Regions from separate parts of the Homo sapiens genome. Here region 2 is linked to region 1. The links come from fine-mapping of genetic effects on gene expression. A gene starts in region 1. The other region holds a variant in brackets. All regions are shown on one strand. Distances are between the middles of the regions. Region 1 holds the start of KLHDC7A (kelch domain containing 7A). Region 2 has its middle 35 kb from the start of KLHDC7A.

Region 1 (2,906 bases):
CATCCTGCTCATCGTCATAGCAACAGAGGCCGCCGGAGTCTTCCTTGGGGCACACGTCAGCCACCACCAGGTACTGGCGGCCCCGGAGCCGGCGCTGCAGGATCAGCTCGCGCTCTGCCCCGCTCAGGCACCCGTAGATGTCCGGGCTGCGCAGCACCTGCAGGTAGTTTTCGCTCATCACCTTGTAGGCCGCCTCTTTCAGGGCCTCCAGGTTCTGCCTCTTGGCCAAGGTCAGCACCTCATAGCAATTGCCCAGATCCAGGCGGACCTGTGGGGCTGAAGCAGGGGTGAGCGGGATATGGAAGAAATTGGTCCCGGCCACCGGCTGCACATGGGGCTCCCGGCTGCTTCTGCCTAAGCCAGGCAGGGCGCCCGGGTCTGGGCAGGGTGGAGCGGGGAGCCGGAAGCCATCTGGCTGCAGCTGCAGCTCTGGGTTCTCCGCTATCTGCAGAAGGCTCTCCTTCCGGCTGAAGCCTCGGGTGGAGGGCCACGGCCCTGTCTGCGGGGAGGCGGCTCTTTCGGCTGCACCCTTTGTGTCACCGGCTTGGCCTCCCGAGGCAGCCCCTGTTCCCAGGGACCCTGGCGGTGGCCTAGGGGATGGAACCTCAGTCAGGGCTGCTGTCCTGGGAGCCAGCCTGCCCTGGAAGATGGCCTGAGAGGTAGATTCCACATAGTAGTCGTACACCTTGCCCTTGAGCCGGGGCTCAACCCCCTCCGCCTTCTGTATGAAATGCTCCTCCATTCGGACGCGGGCTATGGATGAGAAGGTATAGGAGGAGTTGGGGGCGCCCTCCTGCTGATGCAGGGTCAGGTCAACATCGGAGGCAGCCTCGAGAGCCCCAGCCTCTTCTCTGCTGACCCCTATCACACGGGTGAAGACCCAGCTCTGGTTCATGTCACTGCTGCCTTGCAAGGGAGCCACGTAGTGACAGTGGGGAGGTTCTAGTTGCCCCAGTCCTGGATGCTCACGGGGTTTACTGTCCTGCCATGGAGAAGGCTCACCACCGGCACAGCTGCCGTCGGCTGCTGCAATGAGTCCAGCTGGGGAGCTCTTCGGTTCGCTGCCCAAGCGGGGGAAATGGGGAGGGTCAGGGTTACTGCCAACAGCTGTTCTGGTTTCCTGGCTGGGGCAGCAAGGAGGCACCTGCTCAGAGTCCGAGCCCTGCCCGCCCCGCTCCTCACCTGAGCCTTTTCTCTGGGGCTTCCTGTCTGTGGAAGTGGCCCCCGTGACCAGGACATAGGGGCCTCTTGGATTCTCACAGCTGCAGCCCTGTGGTGCTTCAGCCCGCTTGCTGCTCCTCCGACGTCTTGGCCCCCTCAGGAGCACCCCAGGAGAAGCCTCCTGTACAGCAGGCTGCCCTGAGCCCTCTGCTTCCTCCTTGGCTTCTGCCTGGCCATTCCCACCCCACCGCTGGGCTGGGGCAGGCCTCGACTTGTACAGCCTGTAGGCCACAGTCACCAGGAGCAGGGCAGCGGCTGACAGCACCACCTTGCCGGTCAGCTGCATATCCAAATGCCAGTCCTGGGCCTCTGCTCCTCTGGGGAACATGCTTCTCCAGCCAACCTGGGGCTGAGGAATGTCAAGAATCTGATTAATAATTGCCCAGTAGGGACCAGTTCCTGGGTCCTGCTGAGCGGAGGGGAGGGAGTTCTGGGCTGGTTCTGGCTGGCCAGCCGAGGAGAGGAGAGGAGCAAAGGTGACTTTGAGCTGCAGAGGGTGGCCGCTGGGGCCCAGAGCTGGCAGATCCCAGCGGCTGGCCTCCTTCCATGCTTCCCTGGTGGCTGGGGTGGGGGGCCCGCCCAGGGGCTGAGCTTGTGATCAGCCACCTAAGCCAGCTCTGTGGTCAGCAGCTAGGGGATGTTAGGAGTATCCAGTGGGCATACAAAAGAGGAGGAAGCTCTTAACCAAACAGTCACCCGATGCCAGGAAATGCATGGGGTTGGTTATTCTTTATGTGTGTGCTTTATTTTCTCTTTTGCAAGTCCACTGGGCTCAGAGGCTTGGGTGTGGTGAGTCATGGGCAGGTGGAGCCCCAGTAGGCGTGGATGGGGTCATTCTTGTGAGGTCTGCTGGTCCTCACAGTGGGGTCAACTTTATGCTGGCCAAGCAGGGAACGGGAACATGGCAGTGGAGTCTGGAGCCAGGGCATGCAGCCAAGCCACCTGAGCCGGCCCTTGAGTGCCTCTGCCCTCCTTCCCTGCCTGACAAGTTTATTAAGAAAAACCAGCCTTTCTGAGAACAGTGGAGAAAGACATTGCATTAGTGCTCAGATCGGGGTTAGATGTGGACACATCTTCTCTTTTAAAACCAGACAATCTCCTACGGTGAAAGATTGAGGGAAGACTCACGTCTCCCAGACCCCCCCTCACCATTTCCCCTCCCCCATCACCAGTGCTGTGGGTCCTGGACCCAGACTACCTGGCTCTGCTACTTACCAACTATATGACCTTAGGCAAGAGACCTCACCGCTCTGTGCTTTGTCTGAAAAAGGAGGATGACAGCATACGCACCTCATCAGCTTGTGGGGAGAACTAAATGGGCTACTAGGAATAAACACTGGGGCAGAGCCCCCATCATGAAAGCTTAGTAAATATGAACTATTCTCTGCTTCTTCCTCCTTTTCCTCTTTCTGATCATCGGCACCATCATCGCTAGTATCAATTGTCATCAGAGGACCTTCCAAAGCACAGAACTAATTCTACCCTTCTCCTGACCAAGGTCCTCAAAGAGTCCCCAAAGTCCTGTGCAGGGGTCTCAAACTCTTGCTGCATATGGAGGCTGGGTAGGTAAAGTGAACAAGTAAGGACGTCTGTCCGCCCCACCCCAGCCGATGGTATCAGGCCCAGCATTGCCTCATCCTCCCACTGTCGCAAAAAGCTTAGAATCCCAGTAGTGACATAATCAC
Region 2 (2,906 bases), 35 kb after region 1:
GTGTGCACGTGTATGTATGTGTGTGCATATGTGTATTGTGTGCATGCACGTGTGTGTATATGTGCTCGTGTGTGTATGTGCATGTGTGTATGTGTGTGTATATATGTATGTGTGTAATTGCATGCGTATGTGTTGGGGGTGGTGGAGAGGGGCCGCCCTTTGTTTCTTTGGAGGCTGGACTGCTGTGCAGCCAGAGGGCCTCCCGTGTCAGACAGCAGGGCAGAGGCCTGGCTGACCTGCTGACCGCTGTTGGCCTCTTCAGGGTCTGTATCTGGGGTTGCTGCACCCCAGGTCCTTGGATTCCAGCAGGCCTGGCTCCTTGCATTGACCAGCTTCAAATCTCTGATTGCATTGCTTGCAATCATTAGGTGCATCCTGGGGTCCCCCAACCCCCACCATACACACACACACACACACACACAGTGTGTGCATAGGGCAGGCAAACTCATTTCAATATTAGCTGAAGTAAAAGAGGATTAAGAAGTTAAATCTATAGTAGGGGAAAAATAAGTTTAACTGAATGCACTTCAAAGCCAAATAGAAATGACTTCTGGATCCTCGGCTGGTTTTGGATTATCTTTGCCTGGTTTCCCATTTGCCTGCATGGATTATCTGTATCTGTGAACAGTGCACATGGTTTCAGAAGGGACAGGAGTGGTGGGGCCACGGAGCCCAGGTTTTGCTTCCCTGCCAGGGTAGGGCCTGGCCTTGGTGGGGAGGGTCAGCCCCTATTGGCAGCCAAAATGTGTCTGATGGATTTGGGCGGCGGGAGGGAAATCAGGGTCCTTTGATGAAACACCAGGTGCAGCAGTAGAGGGGACTGATTGGGAGGGAGAGGCATCTGTTCTGAAAGGCAGGCTGGGGAGAAGAGAAAGCACTAATCACGGCTTGAATGCTAAACTCTGGGCTGGTGTTCACCAGGGGGCAGGGAGGGAAAGGAAGTTCTCAGAGCAGATGAAAATCCTTGTCATCACTGTTGAGAAACTACTGGTGGCCCAATGACTCAGGTGTACAGAGACTTATTGCTACTTCAGTTGTTCATTGATTTTCTTACCCATAAGTGTCTATTTATTCGTGACAGTGTGGCAGGCAATGTGTTAGGCACCTAGAACATAAGGGTAAACCAGACAGACACTGTCATCTCTGCTGCCAGGGATGAGTAAATGATTACTTTGGTGTGACAAGTGATAGCCTCTTGTCCTACACAGGATGTGTATGAGCACAGAGCAGGGCAAATAACTTTGACTTGGGAGAG[A/G]TATTCAGAGAGGGCTTCCTGGAGGAAGTGATGTGTAAACTCAGACCTAAAGGATGAGATAGATAATAATCATCATAATAGCAAACTTTTCATAAACACTTGACTACATGCCAAACAGGGTTCTAAGCATGTTACGTGCATTTTCTCATTTATTTTCCACAAAAATTCTATTATTAATTCTGCTTCTCAGATAAGAAAACTGAAGCAGGGGGAGGTGACTTGTAGGGTCATAAGCTAAGAAGTGAGGGACAATGATGAAGAGGTGAGCAATGGGGAGAGAAAGAAGAGAAGCAGGGATATAGTGTATCAAGCAGAGGGAATGGTCAGCCCATGCAAAATCACGGAGGTGAGAGAGAGGGAGCCGTGCTGGAACAGAAGGTGCAAGGAGGAGTGTGGTGAGTAGGGAGGCTGTGGTGGATCCCAGTGGGTTCTACCTTACACAGGTGGCAGTCTTAGGGAGGCAGGGGATGGGGAGTTTACTCCCAGAGATGAATCCCACGTCAGGGGACTGCAGCTTAGGAACGTAGAGGCGGGAACACCCTCAAGACTGGGTTGACTGTGGATGTTCCCTGGACCTGGGGACCAAGACCAGACCTTCAGGACTGGGGAGGATTTAAAAAAAAAAAAACCTGGGAGGATGAGGTGGAATCTTAATCCCACCCCCACTGGACCCCTCTAGTGATTCAGCATCACTGGGAAACCAGACTTGGCCATTCCCCAGCATGCCCCTTGGCCATTCCCCAGTAGGGGCACGCTGATCCAAGCAGGCTTGGAGAGCTTCGAACCTGGCCACTACAAGCCCTGGAGTCAGGGAGGTCTGGGTTCAAATCTAGATTTCCTTGCAGAAGAACTCCGAGTTTGGGCACTGTATTAGTTCATTCTTGCACTGCTATAAAGAAATAACTCAGACTGGGTAATTTATAAAAAAAAAAAAAAGAGGCTTAATTGGCTCATGGTTCTGTAGGCTTTACAGAAAGCTTGATGGCTTCTGGGGAGGCCTCGGGAAAAATTTCAATCATGGTGGAAGGTGAAGGGAAAGCCGACACGTCTTACATGGCTGGAGTAGAAGGAAGAAAGTTGCTGGGGGGTTGGGGGGCATGCTACACACTTTTAAACAACCAGATCTTGTGAGAAGTCTATCATGAGGACAGCACCAAAGGCGGAAATCCACCCCCATGATCCAAGCACCTCCCACCAGGCCCCATCCCTCAACGTTGGGGATTACAATTCGACATGAGATTTGGGCGGGGACACAGATCCAAACGATATCAGGCATATAACCCAACCTTTCTGGGCAGAGGCTCCCTCATCTGTAAAATGGGGATAATAATTTTGTAGGGCACCTTTGCGACACTCACTCCCCATTCCTTCTTCCTAAGGGGACTCCTGTCTTGCTCAAGCATTCGCCCCTCCCTGATGAAGCCATTTACATATATGGGAAGCAGGATCTATCCCCAGGGCTAGGATGGATGATCCTAGTTAGAGTCCTCAAGCATGGTCAGGATTGCCAGTGATTGGCTAGGAGTCCAGACTTAAGCCAATCGGTGTATGGCATTCCAAGTGGGTGGCCAATCGTCTTGTCTGGGGCAGGTGGTGGTGGTAGGGTCTTTTTCTCTCCTACTGGATGGGAACAGTGAAGCCTCTTACTCCA

Evidence for each region.
Region 2: its variant is fine-mapped to the expression of KLHDC7A in whole blood (TOPMed, PIP above 0.99).

What each region holds. Positions count from the first base shown.
Region 1 is chr1:18,479,625-18,482,530 of GRCh38, reverse strand. KLHDC7A (kelch domain containing 7A) reads right to left here and starts at 1,601. Exons shown (of 1, transcript NM_152375.3): 1 at 1-1,601. The coding sequence starts at 1,549. RefSeq lists enhancers at 779-1,650, 1,651-2,523.
Region 2 is chr1:18,444,827-18,447,732 of GRCh38, reverse strand. No RefSeq gene overlaps it. Among named protein-coding and RNA genes, the nearest start is that of KLHDC7A, 35 kb to the left of the region's middle. The variant A/G (reference allele first, on the strand shown) is at 1,256.